Linked DNA regions of Homo sapiens: region 1 is linked to region 2. The links come from fine-mapping of genetic effects on gene expression. A gene starts in region 2. The other region holds a variant in brackets. All regions are shown on one strand. Distances are from middle to middle.

Region 1 (9,776 bases), 68 kb before region 2:
TATTTCTTAATATTCTATTTAGGATGAGCTTATCATGGAACATAAGAAAAATAAAACAGATGTCAGCCTGTGTATGAAGAATTCATCCACAAGATTTGGTAAAGGATAATAATAATAATAATAATAATAATAATAATAATAGCTATCATACATTCATTGGGTACTTACTAGTACCAGGCCAGTTCTAAGCACTTTTTTTTTTTTTTTGAGACAGAGTCTCATTATTCTGTCCCCCAGGCTGGAGTGTTGTGGGGGCAATCACGGCTCACTGCAGCCTTGACCTCCTGGACTCAAGTGATTCTCCTGCCTCAGCCTTGCAAGTAGCTGGGACTACAGGTGCATGCCACTACGCCTGGCTAATTTTTTAAAATTTTATTTGTAGAGACGGGGTCTGCTGGAGTTGCCTAGGCTAGTCGTGAACTCCTGGGCTCAAGCAGTCCTCTTCCTTGGCCTCCCAAAGTACTGCAATTACAGGCATGGTCTGCCACGCCCAACCTAAGCACTACACACACACTCACACACACACACACACACACACACACACTCATCTAATCTTCACAACAATCCTATGAAGTAGATACTATATGTTCTTCATTTTAACAGCTCAGGAAATGGATGTGCAGAGGTTAAGTAACTGGTTCAAGTCCATGTGGCTAGTAAATAGCAAATCTAGAATCTGATCTGAGGCAGTCTGGCTTAAAAATATGCATTCTTAGCTGGGTACAGTGGCTCACGCCTGTAATCCCAGCACATTGGGAGGCCGAGAGGCAGCTGCATCACTTGAGGTCAGGAGTTCAAGACCAGCCTGGGCAATATGGTGAAACCTGGTCTCTACTAAAAATACAAAAATTAGCTAGGTGTGATGGTGTGCACCTGTAATCCCAGCTACTCAGGAGGCTGAGGCAGGAGAATCGCTTGAACCAGGGAGGCGGAGGCTGCAGTGAGCCGAGCGAGATCGTGCCACTGCACTCCAGCCTAGACAACAGAGCAAGACTCAGTCTCAAAAAAAAAAAAAAAAAAAAAAGCATTCTCTGTACTAGGCTACAGACATGTCCTTGAAAGTATTTATGCTTACTTTGTTGTTGTTGCCTCCTGTGATTAGAAAATATTATGTTTAGATATGCTTGTTTTTATTTTAAAATGTACAAGAAGAAGTAATGTTGTATTAGTCAGTAAGCTTTGGTCATAGAAATGTTTTCTTTGCAAAGGGTTGCCCATTTTTGTTTTCCTAAGATGGAGCAATTGTACTCATAGCATTGAGCCACCCATTCCTCTGAGTGGGCTAATGAGAGGTTGGTCATGAATTTTGATCTGATGACTTTGAGGAGAGAGAACCGTAAGCACTGGTCCTGGGGTAAAGGGTGGTGTGGTAGGGAGGGAGGAGGAGGACAGATGGTGGGAACCAGAAGAACCAGGTCCAGACAGGCTCCAGCCTGGTCATGAGATGGGGCTGCCATGGTTGATAAATGCTTGAGGTTTGGTTGATGATCTGAGGCCCAGTTCAACTCTTGGCTTCCCCTGGAGCATTGCTGGGGACCCGGCACAGTGACATCAACATCACTAGTAGCCCATCTGCCATCAGTCACATCCATCTTGAGGGAAAGAATGCTTAGATCGTGAGAGCATCCTGCCCTGGGACCAAGGATTTGAGAATGAGGGCACGAGTCGGGGTGCTACTTCCTTCCTTGTTCATATCACCTATTTCCTTCTTAGGTGCCTGGTACAAGGAATAATTAGATAGAAACACATGGGTAGCTTAGATAGGGAAGAGGAAGAATCCCTTAGGAGTCTACAGACGCCATACTGCAACACATTGGCATTAGAAGTAGGATTGTAGTGTCCTCTAGTGGACACTTTGTGAATTTACATAGTATTATTTACTGGATGTGGCCAATAAAGGTGGGCTGAATCCAGAAAAGGGAAGATTGGCATCCAGAGTGTTTGGAGAGTGGGCCCATAAGAGAACATTGTGTGTGTATGTGTGTGTGTGTGTGTGTGTGTGTGTGTGTGTGTGTGCACGTGCACGCACGTATGTGTTGGGGGCTGTGTAGCTTCTCCTAACTTCACCATGCAGAAGTCAAGGAAACGGTTACAGAGGCAAAATGTGGGAGTAGCTAATGGCAATGGCCCAGAGAGATGAAAAAATGTGAGAAAACCAAAGCTTGGAGGTAGGAACTTTCCGATTCTTTTGGAGTAGACTAAGGTGACTTAAGTAGGAAAAGAACGCATAGCCAGTAACTCTCCCAACAGAACTGGATTCGTGCCTGGGGTGATTCAGGATGTCCAGTTAAGCTGGGAAATACTGATTCCACTGATCCCCTTCATTCACTCAGAGCAGACCGAAGACTGTGAGACTTCCTCCCCACAGTGAGCTAAAAGGACGCTTTTGTCAGAGTGGGGAAATAAAAGGGCTTTATGGGAAGGAAGATAAGAACAGATGAGTCAGAGGTTTCTGCTTAATGGTGAGTATTTTTGTCTTAAAATGTGTGTTTTTCTTCTTTGGAGAAGGTACTGCACTCTTTTTGTGTTTTGAGCTGGAGACTTTCTTTGATATGACTGGGTTTTAAGCTAGTTGGTTACAAATGAATATTTGGGGCTTTAGAAAATATTCTTTATGTTTGGATGGGATCTCCTAAGTACATAAATAAATTGTTTTATTATTAACCTAAGTTTCTCTTGGTGAAATTTTCTGTGTGTTTGACTGGCCACAGTGTAATTTGCTTAATTTTTGAACACAGTAAGATTTATCTACAAATTAGAGGTGTTGCAAAGTTGATTTAGTTTGATAATGATTAGTTTTCTTTGTTTTTATGTGTGTACACAGTGCATTGGGTTTAATAAGCTTTTTATTGGAGTAAATCATTCGTGCAGAAAAATGCATTAATCATAAGCATATAGCTTAATGCGTCACCACAACTTGAACACATTTGTGTAAACATAACTGTCTTAGTCTGCTGGGGCTGCTATAGCAAAATGCCACAGACTGGGTGGCTTAAACAACAGACATTTATTTCTCACAATTCTGGAGCCTGGGAAGTCCAAGATCAAGGTGCTGGCGGGGTTGGGTTCTGGTGAGGGCTCTCTTCCTGGCTTGTAGATGACTGCCTTCTCACTGTGTCTTCACAGTGTAGAGAGAGCATGAGCAAGCTCTCTGGTCTCTTCTTATAAGGGCACTAATCCCATCATGAGGACCCTACCCTCATCACCGCATCTAAACCTAATTTCTTCCCAACGACCCCGTCTCCTAATCCCACCACATTTGGGATTAGGGACTCAGTGCATGAATTTGGGGGGCACACAACATTTAGTTCATAATAATAACCATCCAGTAAAGATGCCTCTCTTGTGCTACCTCCCAATCCCAGCCCTCTGCCCTCCCCAAGGTGACCACTAGCTTAACTTCTAACCACATAGAGTTTTGCCTGTTTTTGAATTTCATATAGTTAGAATTATACAGTATATATTCTTTTCTTTTTGAGAGAAGGTCTCACTCTGTCACCCAGGCTGGAGTGCAGTAGCACGATCTCAGTTCACTGCAACCTCTGCTTCCCAGGGTCAAGCAATCCTCTGAGCTCAGCCTCCTGAATAGCTGGGACTACAGGCATGTGCCACCATGCCTGGCTAATTTTTGTATTGTTTGTAGGGATGGGGTTTCACCAGGTGGTCCAGGCTGGTCTTTAACTCCTGGACTCAGAAAATCCACCCACCTTGGCCTCCCAAAGGGTTGGAATTACCAGCGTGAGCCGCC[G/A]TACCCGGCCTATGTATTGTTTTCAATCTATAAGGTTTATCTGTGCTGTTATGTATAGTAGCATGTTCATTTCCATTGTGGTATACTATTCCATTGCATGAATATATAATAATTTATCCATTTTAGCTTTTCAGTTTCAAATAATGTGTATCTTTTGGAGTAGACTAAGGTGACTTAAGTAGGAAAAGAATGCATAGCCAGTAACTCTCCCAACAGAATTGGATTCATGCCTGGGGTGATTCAGGATGTCCGGTTAAGTTGAGAAATACTGTACATCTTGGAGTACAGTTACTGTCTCCTGGCATATGCATATCTTCACCTTTAGTAGATAGCATCGCATGGTTTTATAAAGTGGTTTTACCAATTTATGCTGCCACCAGCAATGTGTGAGTTCAGCAATGATAAAAGTTATTTACACCACAGAAATTGGCAACTTTTACAAATCAGAGTTTCTTTCTTAACCAGTTGTAAAATAATTACCAGCACACCACTGCCAATGAGGTAGGAGGCAGGACTTGGACTCCGGACCAGATTGAGACTAGCTGAAAGGGGAAGAGGCAAAAGCACCTCTCCAAAAGACATGCTGACCAGTGCCATGTCAGTTTACTATTGCCATGGCAACAACTGGATACCACCCCTTTCTATGGCAGTGACCCAACAACTGGGAAGTTACCACCCTTGTTCTAGAAATTTTTGCATAATCCACCCCTAATTTGCATGTACTTAAAAGTGGGCATAAACATGACTGCCGAGCTGCCCTGAGCTGCTACTCTCTACACACTGCCTATGGGGTAGCCCTGCTGTGCAGGAGCAGTCACAGATCCCTAACACTACACTGCCTCCTCAATAAAGCTGTTTTCTTGGCCGGCCACAGTGGCTCACACCTATAATCCCACCACTTTGGGAAGCCAAGGTGGGCAGATCACTTGAGGTCAGGAGTTTGAGACCAGCCTGGCTAATATGGTGAAACTCTGTCTCTACTAAAAATACAAAAATTAGCCAGGCGTGGTGGTGTGCACCTGTAATCCCAGCTACTCAGCAGGCTGAGGCATGAGGATTGCTTGAACCTGGGAGGCGGAGGTTGCAGTGAGCTGAGATCGCACCATTACACCCCAGCCTGGGCGACAGAGCGAGACTCCGTCTTAAAAAAAAAAATCCTGTTTTCTTCTACCACCAGCTCACTCTTCAATTCTTTCCCGAGCAAAACCAAGAATCTTCTTGGGCTAAGCCCCAATTTGGGGTTCACCTGCCTTGCAGCAACATGGCACCAAACATGCGGCAGAAGAGAGAAAACGACAGCATGAGAGACGGAGAAAGAAATGGCCAGTTGGCAAGGTGGTAATGAGAGACAGCAGTTGGCAAGACAGTGAGAGACAGCAAGAGATGGCAAGTGACAGTTATTGTTAAGATGACAAATGGAGAGATGGCAAGAAATAGAGAAGCAGTCAGTGATGGAGGCTGCAAGAGTTGTAACACTAACCAAAGGCTCTTTTTAGAATCATCGTTTTCCCTGGCAGGTGGTACAGCCAAGCAGACAGGCAAGTAAGTGGCCATACTGCTACTGCCTCATGTAGGATCCGGCAGGCTGGTGGGTTATCAGTCCTCACGTGGGACCCTCCCACCATGGCAGCTGAGCACATCCAAGCTGGGGGATCCTGAAGAGACCTTCACCTGGGTGCCACGTGGAAGATTGGCCAGCACCATTTTGACTCCTGTGGATGGGTGAGTGTTTTGCCCACCCCCACCCCAATAACATCAGGTAAGCTCAGGAATTAAAGCCTTTGGCTAAGAGGTCAGTTAAAAGTCCCTCATCATTTGGATACCCTTAAACACTTCCTTGTCCTTGTCACCCTTTTCCCTGATTGTTTCCCCTCTGACTCCATTGTATTGCTCCACCAGTCGTTTTATTTTCAGTCCTAAGATGTATGTTTTGTTGGCAGTCTTTGTTTTCATTTTGATTTTCTGTTGACTAAATTTGGGGAATGATTTAAGGCAGGACACTTGGCCATGCAAGGCCTCCTGTTGTGTTGTTCTGTGACCTCCAACTTGGCCTGAGGTTTGCTGTTGGCCAACCCCCTGGTGCCCTGGGGTTTTCAGCATTTGGTGAGGGGACCCTTGTTGGCTGAAACTCAGGTACTCCAGGTTTTTCAGCATTGGTATTGCTGAAAATGCTCTGGGGTTTTCGGCATTGACATTCCCTCTTTCATTGAGTGGATAGAGGCTTTCCCCACAGGAACAGAAAAAGGCATTAGAAGTGTCCAAATTCTTACTTAAAGAGATCATTGCAAGGTTTGGGTTACCTAGAAGTCTGCTCAGTGATAACAGAACCTCCTTCACAGCTAAAGTGACCCAGCAGGCTTCCTGAGCCTTAGGCATTACCTGTCATCTTCACTCTTGGAGACCTCAATCCTCAGGTAAGGTAGAAAAAGCTATTTCTCCCCTAGGGGAATCTTGGTCTTGCCTTTTTCTGCTCTGAAGTTAGAAGTTATTATTTTCCTAATAGCCAGTTGCAGACCTCTTCCTGTGTGCTGTCTTACAACTGCATAACTGTCTTGCTTAAGCCCTCTTGGTTGAAGGGGACTGGGAGTTCCCAGGCCCCTGATGGACAGCCACCAACAGCAGTAGAAAAGTGGCCACCTGAACGTTGTTTTTGGTGTCTCTCCTACTGGGTAGGTTCTCTGGCAGTGAGGGCCCCTGAGGTCTCCCCTTGGGCAATGCTATTTACCCCTGCCCTTCTTCCCTTCCACTGTCACCATTTGTTTAGTCTCTCTCTGCCTAACCCTCACTCTCTGTGGAATTTAGGCCAACATTCTGTTTCCCATTTGCAGCTTATAATCCACTTTTATAACACCTTGCTGTCTATATTTACACCTTCTTTGTACAAAGTGGGAATTTAAAAGGGAAAAGTAACTAGGCATTTGCTAAGCTTAGGTCACTAAAACCCCCATAGAGAGCCTTACTAGACATGGGGCAGCAGAGAGCATCCTGAAGGACTTGACGTGAGGGTGTCTTTTAGGCAATTGGAGTAAATTCAAATTAGACAAATTGAAAAAGAAAAAATTTATTTTCTGTTGCAACAATGTTTAGGTTCTATATAAATTGGCAAGCCAACAGATGTGGCCTAGGCAGGATTTTTTTTTTTTTTTTTGAGACAGTCTTACTCTGTTGCACAGGCTGGAGTGCAGCGGCAAGATCTCGACTTGCCACAACCTCTGCCTCCTGGTTCAAGCGATTCTCCTGCCTCAGCCTCCCAAGTAGCTGGGATTACAGGCGCAGGCTACCATGACCAACTAATTTTTTGTATTTTTAGTAGAGATGGGGTTTCACCATGTTGGCCAGGCTGGTCTCGAACTCCTAACCTCAAGTGATCTGCCTGCCTTGGCCTCTCAAAGTGCTAGGATTACAGATGTGAGCCACTGCACCCGGCCTCATGATTCTTTATGTTATAATGATATTGTACAATTAGAATTTGTTTTGTAAAAAGGAAGGAAAATGGGAAGAAGTCCCTTATGTGCAGGCTTTTCTGGCCATCTACCAGGATCTTAAGGGCTAGCTGTAGAACATGTCTGGCTTATGATACTCCCAGCCACCCAGAAGCACATCAGGTATTGTAGATGACCTTCTCTTAGCTGTTCCCCCATGAGGCCTGTGTCCCCACTTTGAAGCCTCTCCAGTCCCCTAGTTCTGGGGGGGGAGGACACCACTTCTCTAGTGCAGAATTCCACCTCAAAGTCAGCAGGCATCCCTCCCCTTTATCCAACAGGTCCTGGCCCATATCCCCTACTGCCGGAGGAAGTAAACCCAACCAGTACTACCAGGAGTTGGGCCCCATATCAGCTGCCAAAATTAGACCTGTGTCCATTGTGAGAGGTAGCTGACAGGCATGGAGGAACAACCACAAGATATGTGCCTTTTTCATGTTTGATTTGGCTTTATGCAAGGAAAAATTTGGTTGTGTTTTAGAGGATCCTGGGAAGTTTACAGAGGAGTTTGTTAAGTTGAGCGTATTCTTTGATTTAACTTGGCATGACATGCAAATATTACTATCCACTTGTTGTACTGTAGAGGAAAAACAAAGAATTCTAGATACTGTCCGTGAACATGCAGATGGAGTAGCCACCCAACCCAGGCCATGCCATATCGTGTGGGAGGAGATGCAATTCCAGATCTAGGCTCTCAATTGGATTACTAGACAGGTTCTCAAGATCTTAAATGCAGAAATCACAGGCTAATTTGTTTAACATGAAAAAGTGTGTGCTTAAGCCAGTCAGTTATGACAAGGTGAGAGAAATAACTCAGGACAAAGATGAAAACCCTGCTCTATTTCAGGGCCGTTTTCTTGGGGCACTCAGGAAATATGCTAATGCAGACCCAGACTCCCCAGAAGGGTGGGTTCTCCTGGGTGTGCATTTTATCACTCAATCTGCCCCTGACATCAGGAGGAAGCTACAAAAGGTAGCAATGGGGCCCCCATGAGCCAACCCTTAGACGTTGCTTTTAGGGTTTACAACAACAGGGACAAGGCAGAGGAAGAGGCAAAAGCCAAAAAGTTGGCCAAAAAATCACAATTGTTAGTGGCTGCTTTAGGCCCTCTGCTGCTTCAGGGTTACCCACCCCAGGAAAATATGGGAAGATCAGTGTCTGGGATGCTTAGATGAGAGTCCCACCACTTGCTGGACTCTAGGCAAAAATCAAATCAGTGTGCCTTTTTTTTTTTTTTTTTTTTGAGACAGAGTCTTGCTCTGTCGCCCGGGCTGGAGTGCAGTGGTGTGATCTCAGCTCACTGCAAGCTCCACCTCCCGGGTTCATGCCATTCTCCTGCCGCAGCCTCCCAAGTAGCTGGGACTACAGGCGCTCACCACCATGACCGGCTAATTTTTTTGTATTTTTAATAGAGACGGGGTTTCACCGTGTTAGCCAGGATGGTCTCAGTCTCCTGACCTCATGATCCACCCGCCTTGGCCTCCCAGAGTGCTGGGATTACAAGCGTGAGCCACCGTGCCCAGCTTTTTTTTTTTTTTTTTTGAGACGGAGTCTTACTCTGTCACCCAGGCTGGAATGCAGTGGCCTGATCTTGGCTTACTGCAACCTCTGCCTCCTGGGTTCAAGCAATTCTCCTGCCTCAGCCTCCCAAGTAGCTGGGACTACAGGTGTGTGCCACCACACCTGGCTAATTTTTTGTATTTTTAGTAGAGACAGGGTTTCACTGTGTTAGCCAGGATGGTCTTGATCTCCTGACCTCGTGATCCACCCGCCTCAGCCTCCCAAAGTGCTGGGATTACAGGTATAAGCCACCATGCCTGGCCCAGTGTGCCTTCTGTAAACAAGAAGGCTACTGGAAGAAGGACTGTCCCAGGCTTAAAGGGGAGTCTGAGACACCCAGATCCATAATGGCCAAGAAAGCATAGGACTGATGGGGCCTGCGGTCCTCTACAACTCCTACTGGACACCTTACCATCTCCATAGAGGAGTCTTTGGTAACCCTGGACACGGCAGGCAAAAATACTGGGTTCTTAATGGACATGGGAGCAGCCTACTCAGTTGTAACCCATTTCTCAGGGCCTCTGTCTTCCTGCTCTTGTACAGTAACAGGGATTGATGGCCAGCCAAAAATTAGGAGATTTATCCACCCCCTTGGTTGCACCCTGGAAGACCATACATTTTCCCACGGGTTTTTACTTATGCCTAAGTGTCCTATCCCTCTACTGGGGAGAGAATTACTTTCCCAGTTACAGGCCACAGTTCAATTTCAAGTGCCTCATAAGAAGGCAACAGGCTGGGAATGGACACTTCTAGCTCTAAGTGCTTACCTCAACACAGATAAGGAGATGCTCTTCCCGCCACATATTGCTTCTCAGGTAGACCCCTCTGTTTGGGTCATGGAAGTTCCTGCTAGAGCTGTTAGTGTACCCCCATTCCAGGTTATTTTAAAACCCAATGTTAATTACATGTGGAAGACACAATATCCTTTGAGACCCAAGGCTCAGAAGAATATCCAGCCCCTAATAACAAAGTTCCTAAAGTCTGG
Region 2 (9,776 bases):
CTTCATCTCAAACAGATGGCATGGTTCGAAACATATCCCGACTGCAGTAGTCACTTGGAAATGAGTTCCCAGTAGTCCTTGCAGTTCAACCAAATACTACTTCTGGGAATGGGGCATGGAAATGGGACGTCGGGGTGCAGCAAAGGCTTCCTGGAGGTGACCCCAAGGGAGAGTGGCCTATAGTAGACACTCATTAAATATTGGTAAAACAAATGGAGTTAGTAGATGAAGAAAAGGGGGAAGAGCATTCCAGGCAGAGATAATACAGGGCCACCTGGCAGGGTCAAGAAGACTTGGGGCCCCTTGGCATATTAAAGTGGGCGGTGGTAGCAGTCTGTCCACATGCAGGCTAGAAGGGGTGCATATCTATAAAGAGCTTAACAATAATAGATCCAACTAAAAGTTGGTCTGCCTTTTATTATTGCTGTGTGCCAGTGATTTTTAAATACTGTTGAAATACTCCTCTCCTAAAAAATCTTTTGTTGGTTTAAGTTCTAAATAATTGCTGTAGATACTGAATTTTATTTGTACATGTAAACTTCACACTAACACATTTTTATTAGCGATCCTTTAATAAATATTGCATTCTATGTGGAAGTTCATTTGGAGAATGCTTGGTTATATAGTCACACCAATACCCATCTTTGGAGCTCACTTTAGGCAAGGGTCACATCTCCTACCCCTGTGGTATTAGACACATCCAAGTTTACACTGTAGATTCAGAATAAACAATCATGAGTTACTGTCAGTGATGACAAAGACAAACAGGGCTTGACTTTTTTCAATTCTGTCATTCTATGTAACCAGTTGGACTTTTGTGTTAAAACAGTGGGACAGGCCAGGCGCGGTGGCTCATGCCTGTAATCCCAACACTTTGGGATGCCGAGGTGGGCGGATCATGAGGTCAGGAGATCGAGACCATCCTGGCTAACACAGTGAAACCCCGTCTCTACTACAAATACACACACACAAAAAAATTAGCCAAGAGTGGTGGCAGGCGCCTGTAGTCACAGCTACTTGGGAGGCTGAGGCAGGAGAATGGCATGAACCCGGGAGGCGGAGCTTGCAGTGAGCCGAGATCGCGCCACTGCACTCTAGCCTGGGCAATGGAGCGAGACTCTGTGTCAAAAAAAAAAAAAAAAAAAAAACCAAAACAAAAAAAAAACAAAAACCAGTGGGACAGAGTGCAAACTGAGAGGCAAAACATTTTTGTTTGTTAAGTGCAAATTTTTAATTTGTACATGAAATATGTTACTGAATTTGAATAAAAATTTACCTTTGAAATGAAAACCTATTCCTTTATACTTGTTAATGGTTTTAAAATGAAAGATGAATAAAGGAAATAAATGTTATAGCCTAAGTATTATTGCCTAAATTGTATCTTATTTAGATGCTTTGGTTTTATTAAAATTTGCTTGTTGGTTGCTGGATGACCATTTACATAAGGGAGTATATCAGATTGTAAAGAAAGGATCAAAATTTAAACAGGTAGATGTGAAAATGATTGAAATAAATAGTTGTGCCTTTTTCATTTTTTGGAGCCATAATATTAATTTTATGTATTTATTTTATGATGTGAGTATGCATACAAATTTTGGCAAATAAATTTTTCACTTTTGCCTTTCCTTTTTCTGGCCATTATTATGATTTGTTTCATTTTATGATGATTTGAAAATATGAAATTTGAATTATGGAAATAATTTTATTTTTAGAGGAGGGGGGTATAAAAATGATCTGCTCTGTGTGTCAAACATGATCCATTCTACAAATATTTCCTAAATGCCATGTTGGGAGAAACACTAGGTATGTGGGAACTGAAAGAGGCATCAAATGGGAGTCAGAGATGGCCCCAGGAGGAGGTGATCCTGGAGTTGAGAGCTGAGCCATTGTTAGCCATAGAATCATAGCCACCATTTCTCAAGGGCCTGCTCTCAGCCCCACTCCATACTAGTAGTTGGGGACCCTAAGATACATAAGAGCCTTCTTACCCCACTTGTTATGATAGAGCAAATGTCCCTGCTCTCACTAAAGGCCCACTTGTCTATTGGTACTCCAGATCCTGTCCTTTCTTGATTCATCCATGACTTTGCTCTTATAATTGAGCCCTCTGTTTCTATATCAGTTTCTCCTTTGGTGCATCCCCATCAGCCTATAACATGCCCTCCCTTAACTGCCACCTCATTTTTCTGCTCTCATTCGTAGCAAAACTTCTTGTTTAGAGTTTAGAGATAATGTCCCACTCCATCAACTCCTCTTCCCTTGGCAGCCCAGTCCAATCAGGCTTCCTTTCTACTGCACTTGGTTTTGTCAGAGTCACCAGTGACCTCCGTCTTGCCAAATCCAGTAGTCACTTACCTGTTTATTTCAACCTCTCAGGTTCTTTGGATGACTTTGCTGTTCTGCTGGGCCTTAAATGTAGGAGTCCCCAGGCTCTGTCCTCTGTCCTGTTGTCAAACTATCTCCAGTGTTGATAGCATCCACTCTAATGGCCTTCTAACTACCATCTCTATGCTGACAACACCCAAGTTTACATTTACAGCCCTGACCTTCTCTGAGCATAATTAATAGACATCTCAAAATCAGTGTCTAAAATGGAATTCTTGTTTCAGTTGCCTCCAAATCTGCTCCTCTTCCTATCTTTCCATATACCAAGTGGCACGATCATCATGCAGTTGCTCAAGCCAATAATCTAGGAGCCTTTTTGATTCCTCTTTCCCTCCCTCCCTACCCCCTTCTGATCCATTACAAATTCTGTTTTTCATTCTTTTTTTTTAGAGATGGGATCTCACTATGTTGCCAAGGTTGGAGTGCACTGGCCATTCACAGGTGTAGTAATCCCATTACCAATCAGCATAGGAGTTTTGACCTACTCTATTTCTGACCTGGGCCAGTTCATCCCTCCTTAGGCAACCTGGTGGTGCCCCACTCCTGGGAGCTCACCATACTGATGCTGAACTTAGTGTGGACACCCAATCAGCACAGCACACTGCAGCCCAGACCTCCTGGGCTCAAGTGGTCTCCCGCCTCAGCCTCCTGAGTAGCTGGGACTACAGGTGGGCACCACCTCCATGACCAAACACTGACATCTCTTTCTTGGACAGCTCCTTTTTTATTTATTTTATTTTATTTTATTTTATTTTATTTATTTTATTTTATTTTATTTTATATTTTATTTTATTTTATTTTTTGAGACGGAATTTTGCTCTTGTTGCCCAGGCTGGAGTGCAATGGCGCGATCTCGACACACTGGAACCTCCACCACCCGGATTCAAGCGATTCTCCTGCCTCAGCCTCCTGAGTAGCTGGGATTACAGGCACGCGCCACCACGCCTGGCTAATTTTTTATTTTTAGTAGAGACGGGGTTTCACCATGTTGGCCAGGCTGGTCTCAAACTCCTGACCTCAAGTGATCTGCCCGCCTCAGCCTCCCAAAGTGCTGGCGTTGCAGGCGTGAACCACTGCGCCCAGCCTCATCTCCTTTAGATTTCTAACTGGTGTCTCTGCACCCCTCTGGCCCTTTATAATCCATAAGGAGCCAAATGGTTTATTTTAAAAACATATATCAGATCACATCAAATTCCTGTTTAAAAGCATCAGTGGCTTCCCGCCACACTTAGAATAAAATCCAAATTCCTTTCTATGGTCTTCAAGGCCCTATCCCTCTGTCCTCGTGTCACTGTCCATGTGGTATCACCGTGGTCACCTTGCCTTCAATTTCCTTCTAGCACCGTTGGGCTCTTTTTTGCCTTAGAGCCCTTCAATCTTCCTATGGCTGGCTCCTTTCAGGCATTTCATTTTCAGCTCACATTTCTGTTTTGGTTTTCCATAGCACTCACCACCACCTAAAATTATAATAGTTAACAACTTTATTACTCATTTCTTGTCTTCCCGTATAAGATGGAAATTGACAGCAAGGACTTTGTTCTGTCCTGTTTACTATTTTACCCCTAGTTCAGAGATCAGTGCCCAACACACACGGGGCACTCAGTAAACACTGCGGAATAAACAGGTTGTGCCATGAAGCTCCCAGTCTTCAGTTCGTACAGACAAGGGACAGAGGTGCACAGACTGTAGCAGAAAAGCTCCAGCCCTTCCAAAGCTTATGGCAAGATCCCGACCTGAGAGAGTGCTGGTGGAGGCTCTCCTATCGGTAGAGGCCCTACACCCAACCTTGCCTCTCTCTCCAGCCTCGCCTCTCTCTCCAGCCTCCTCCTGGCTGGAGTTGGAGACCTGGGTGTCCTCAGTCCCCACTTGGGTGAAACAGTTGCTCAGACTGAGGGGTGGAATGGGTCGGTTGGGTGGGCGGACCAAATTCCTTTAAGAAGCGTTCAAGGCCTGAAGTGGCTGGCTGTCCGTGAGGCTGCCTTGGTTGGGGCATGGTGAGGGTGGGTGGCAGCCTGGGGCAGGGCTGCGAGGGCGGCGCAGGGCGGGACGGGTGGGGCCTGACCCCGCCCCTTGGCGCAGCTGTAAATAGGTAAATAGAAGGTGATTGTGGCGTGGCGATGTACCGATACCCGCCTGCGACGCCGTGGTGGCTGGTTCCCTGTCTCTTCAGTAGAGAGTCTAGACCCCACCCAGTCTTCATGTACGGCCGACCGCAGGCTGAGATGGAACAGGAGGCTGGGGAGCTGAGCCGGTGGCAGGCGGCGCACCAGGCTGCCCAGGTGAGTCAGGTGCCAGCCCCTGGCAGGCCGGGCGGGCCCAGGCTAGGGGGCGGCGGGGAGGGGAGGCCTTGGAGGAGAGGTGAGGCGGAGGGAAGCAGAAACCCGAGGGGTAGAAATCCGAGGGGAGGGGTGGCAAAGGAAGGAATGGGAGATTGGGGAGGGGTTGCAAAGGGAGGGATGGGAGATTGGGGAGGGGTTGCAAAGGGAGGGATGGGAGACTGGGGAGGGATTGGAAAGGGAGGGTTGTGAGATTGAGGGTGTAAATCATACGTCGTTTATTCCAACAATGTTCGCCCAGCAGTAGAGCTTGTGTTGGCCGCGTGGCGGGTAAGAGGGTTCTAGGCAACTTTCTGGTGAGGGACTTGAGTAGGCAGGACAGCAAAGACCAAGTTAGGAAGTGAGCAGGAAACAACAGGAAAAAAAAAAAAAACCCCAAAAATGTTAATTGGAGCCCTACTAAGTGGTAGGCTTTTCCCAGACCCTGGAAATACAATGATGAATTTACCATGAAACAGATATATATAAAATTGTATGAATAAATCGTTAACTGAATGATTGGAATTGTACAGCGTTACATGAAGAAGAAGTCAGGGGCGCGTGGGAGCAGATACCAGAGGTGTTTGACCCGATTTGGGAGGCTTAGGAGACAGCTGAGACTCTGTTCTGGGACTAAAGAACCCGTCAGGTGAAAGGTTCCCAGGTCTGAGACCACAGGCTGCATGCTTCCTCTTAGGAGGAACTGAAAGACCAGGGCCTAGACAGTGATGGAAGGGTGGCCCCAGGGACACCATTGAGATCATTCAGGGCTTGTTTATTCCAAGAACAGTGGGAAGCCATTGATGAGTTTAAACATAATCTGTCTCAATTAGATTTGCATTTTCAAAGGAGTGCCCTGGTGGATGTGGGCTGGATTCAAGGCAACAGTTAGAAAGCTTTTGTGATAATCCAGGTGAGAATTCAAATGGCGGCCTACCTGCAGAAGTGAGAGTGGAGATGGAGAAGCTAAATATATCATAGATTGTGGAGATGTTTTGGAGGCAGAGACCACAATCATTGGTCCCCGGGTGGTGAGGGAGACATCTAGAGTAACAGATTTCTTGCTTGCACAATTGGGTGACAATAGTGACATTTTCTGAGAGAGAGTGAAGGATGAGAAGGACAAGATTAATTTGTTGTTTGAGGGAGGTGGGCAAAGATGCTAGTGAATTTTGGCCATAGTCCATTAGAAGAGCATGTGGGCCATCCGAAAGGACTCAAACAATAGGTAGCTGGAAAATTCAGGAGCCATCTTCGCCAGAGCGAAGATTCCAGATTTAGGAATAGTTGGACTGTAAACAGAAACAAAACCACTGGCATGGGGAAGCTTGCCCAGAGAGAGCAGGGAAAGGGAAATCTGCAAAAGAAACTGTGAAGGAGGGGGTCTGAGAGAAGGGAAGGAGAAAAACTTGGAAAGTGTGGCCATGCGTGTTAGAGAGGCCAAGCATTCTAAGAAGGGTGTGGCCAGTGGTCGTATAAGCTCCTGAGAGTTCAAGCGAGGAGTCTGGAAAGTGCTGCTTGGTCATAGTGGGATGGAAGTCATCAGTGGTGACCTTTATGAAAGCTGGTTCTGTGGAGAGATAGAGGCCAGAGCAAATTTGGGAGACTCATAAGGCAAAGTAGTGGTGAAGGCATGTTTAGACAACTTAATTTGCCATGAAGGACTGGGAAAACAAGAGGGCCATTGCTGAGAGTTAGGGAGGAGAGGCTGAGCACCCCAGAGGTGCCCACCCAATAGTCATTTACCTAGTTCCTATTATATGTCTGTCTTATGCTAGTTGCTGAGCATATAGTGGTAAATAAAACAGATAAGGCTGGGCATGGTGGCTCACACCTGTAGTCCCAGCAGCCCAGGAGGCTGAAGCAGAAGGCTCGTTTGAGCTCAGGAGTTTTAGGCTGTGGTCCACAACGATCACACCTGGGCATAGCCACTGCACTTCAGCCTGGGCAACATAGTGAGATCCTGTCTCTAAAATTAATTAAATAAAAAATAAAACAAGATCTTCCCAACTCTTCTAGAGTTTTTTTTAAAAAATGAACATTTTTCTCTATAGCCAAAACCACATAATCAAACGTATCAAAATTGTATATATATATACACTTTCTTTTGAGACAGGGTCTTGGTGCTGTTGTCCAGGCTGGGGTGCAGTGGCACCATCTCAGCTCACTGAAACCTCCGCTTCCCAGGTTCAAGCAATTCTCGTGCCTCAGCCTCCCAAGTAGCTGGGATTACAGGCGTGTGCCACTCCACCCAGCTAATTTTTTGTAATTTTAGTAGCGGGATTTTGCTATGTTTGTCAGGCTGGTCTCAATCTTCTGCCCTCAAATGATCTACCCGCCTCAGCCTCCCAAAGAGGTGGGATTACAGGCATGAGCCGCCACGCCCAGCCGATAATTCCTTTAAATTATCTTAGATGCAAGCCTTATTCAAATGCCCCTAGCTATTCCTAAAATGTACTTCGTAGCTGGTACGTCCAAACCAGAATTTAAGACCATACACTGTATCTGGTGATTATGTCCCTTGAGTCTCTGAAATTAGAATAGTTTTATTTTTTCATGATTGGGATTCAGTTTTTCATGATGCTAACTTTTGTCTTATAGAATGTTCCTTTCCGATATATCAGATTGCTTCCTCATGATAACATTTAGCTTTATCTTCTATCACTTGTATTACCTTTAAGTTATGATTAGATCTTACAGCTTAACTGGATTCAAGATTTTTGGCAAGAATGCCTCATGTGTATGGTAGGTTTCATCTTGCATTACATCAGGAGACACATCTGGCTACCATTTGGTGATACTTGTATTAAGGTAGCGAAAAGCCTCATTGATCTCTCTGTAGAAATTTACCTTGTGGTCAGAAAGTAATCTGTGTGATTCTGCCTTTTGTGTATCCAGTGTCCAGTTCCCTACCAGCCATTCACCTACTGGTTTTAACACCAAATTTAAATTTTTCCTCAATTAAATTTCCTTAGGGATGGCAAAATAAATTTCCTTTTCCTTTATGTCTTTTCCTTTTTTCATTTTTTTGTCCCACTTTTATGTTTATTAAAAACTGACATAAACACAACCTGTACAAAAAATATCCCAAATCCCGTATGACTTTGAAACAGTAATCCTGAGAGACATTATCGCCTAGGACCCCCTCTTCCTCTGCCACGGCCACGTCCTCTTCCTCTTCCTCTGCCTCTGCCTCTTCCTGCAACAGCTTCCCTTTTCTTAGATTTCACCTTAGGTTCAACATCCACAAGTAGTGTATCCAGAGGTAAACTGTCTAGTAGAATAAAATACCGAATGTTATTTCCTCGAATACTCAGCGTTTCCAGCTGTACAGGTTCTCTGTTCTTCGGGGTCATTTTCACAGCTTTAAGATGTGTATTCATGCTGACATCCACACCTGTGACTGTTCCATGGACCTGTGTTCTGTTCTTCAATGCAATGGTTACAGTTTCATGACTCAATTTCATCAAAAATCTCACGAGCTTCATCCTAGCGGTGCCATCACCCTTTGGGTCCGATAGCACACTGAATCCAACAACCGAATACTGACCGACTGCAGTATGAATGGCCGTTTTTGGTTTTTTTTTTGAGATAGAGTCTCACTCTCTCCCCCAGGCTGGAGTGCAGTGGCACGATCTTGGCTCACTGCTGCAACTTCTGCCTCCCAAATTCAAGCGATTCTCATGCCTCAGCCTCCCGAGTAGCTGGGATTACAGGCATGCACCACCACGCCCGGCTACTTTTTTGTATTTTTAGTAGAGACAGGGTTTTGCCATGTTGGCCAGGCTGGTCTTGAACTCCTGACCTCAAGTGATCCACCCCCCTTGGCCTCCCAAAGTACTAGAATTACAGGCATGAGCCACTGCACCTGGCAGCAAAATAAATTTTCTAATTCCACCATTCATTCTACATTTATTAGTTTGTATTCTTCTGTAAAGTAGGAAGTAATATTTAACTGCAATTATTTGGTAATTTTGAATTTTTTTTTCTTTTAGAGGCAGAATAAATGCTTAATTTATTCACTTCTATTAGCAATCTTCAAAGTTAGGATAAGAGCTGAGCTTTTGTCACGTGAGGCTGCAGTGAGCCATGATCATACCACTGTATTCCAGCCCAAAATGAACCATGATTGATCGCACCATTCACATCTCAGCCTCTGGAGTAGCTGGGACTACAGACACTTGCCACTATACCTGGCAATTTTTAGGGTTTTTTTGTAGAAATGGGGGGTCTCACCATGTTGCCCTGGCTGGTCTCGAACTCCTGGCCTCAAGCGATCCACCTGCTTCGTAGTCTCAAAATGCTCAGCCTGTAACAGTCTTGATAGGTTTTGTGTTTCTAGGAATTTGTCCATTTTATCCAGGTTGTCCAATTTGTTGGTGTGCAATTTTTCATAATATTGTATTATAATCCTTTTTACTTCTGTAAAATTGGTAATAATGTCCCCGATTTCATTTCTCATGTTCAATCATTTGAGTCTTTTCTTTTTCCTTAGTTGATCTAGCTAAGTGTTTGGCAATGTTGTTAATCTTTCCTAAGAACTTTTAGTTTCATTGATTTTTTTCATTCCTTTCTTCTGCTGGTTTGGGGTTTAGTGTATTTTTCTAGTTCCTTAAGGTATAAAGTTAGGTTGTTGGTTTGAGATCTTTTTTACTGAAAGCATTTAAACCAGTAGGTTTTCCCCTTATGACTGCTTTTGCTGTATCTATCCCATTAGTTTTGATAGTTATGTTTTCATTTTTATTGGTCTCTAAGTATTTTCTAATTTTCATTGTGATTTTTTTATTTGACCCATTGATTGTTTCAGAGAGTGCTATTTAATTTCCACACAGATTTGTAAATTTTCTAGTTTATCTGGTTGTGGGTCAGAGAAGATACTTTGTATGATACCTTTTTTTTTTTATTTTTTTCTAAAAGCGGCAAGAGAAAAGTTTATTTTGAAATCTATTGAGACTTAATTTGTGATCTACTATATGGTCTTCTGAAGAATGTCCCATGAACACTTTCGAAGAATGGATATTCTATTGTTGAGTGGAGTGTTCTGTGTATGTCTGTTAGATCTACTTGGTTTATTGT

Direction of the effects. Alleles are on the strand shown, and positions count from the first base shown. SD is a standard deviation of normalised expression in the study named.
For the expression in fibroblasts of the gene that starts at base 4,497 in region 2, allele A in region 1 goes with a lower level than allele G (small effect, 0.22 SD a copy in GTEx).

Evidence for each region. PIP is the estimated chance that this variant, and not a neighbour inherited with it, causes the effect.
Region 1: its variant is the best candidate, but not a certain one, in a credible set for the expression of KLF17 in fibroblasts (GTEx, PIP 0.62).

What each region holds. Positions count from the first base shown.
Region 1 is chr1:44,046,025-44,055,800 of GRCh38, forward strand. All of the region lies in intron 2 of LOC124904169 (a long non-coding RNA gene), which reads right to left. It also overlaps a transcript of KLF17 not described here. Among named protein-coding and RNA genes, the nearest start is that of SLC6A9, 19 kb to the left of the region's middle. The variant G/A (reference allele first, on the strand shown) is at 3,749.
Region 2 is chr1:44,114,325-44,124,100 of GRCh38, forward strand. It overlaps KLF17 (KLF transcription factor 17), which reads left to right and starts at 4,497. Exons shown (of 4, transcript NM_173484.4): 1 at 4,497-4,664. The coding sequence starts at 4,584. It also overlaps the pseudogene RN7SL479P and the pseudogene LOC100129492. RefSeq lists a promoter at 3,486-4,474 and an enhancer at 5,043-5,810.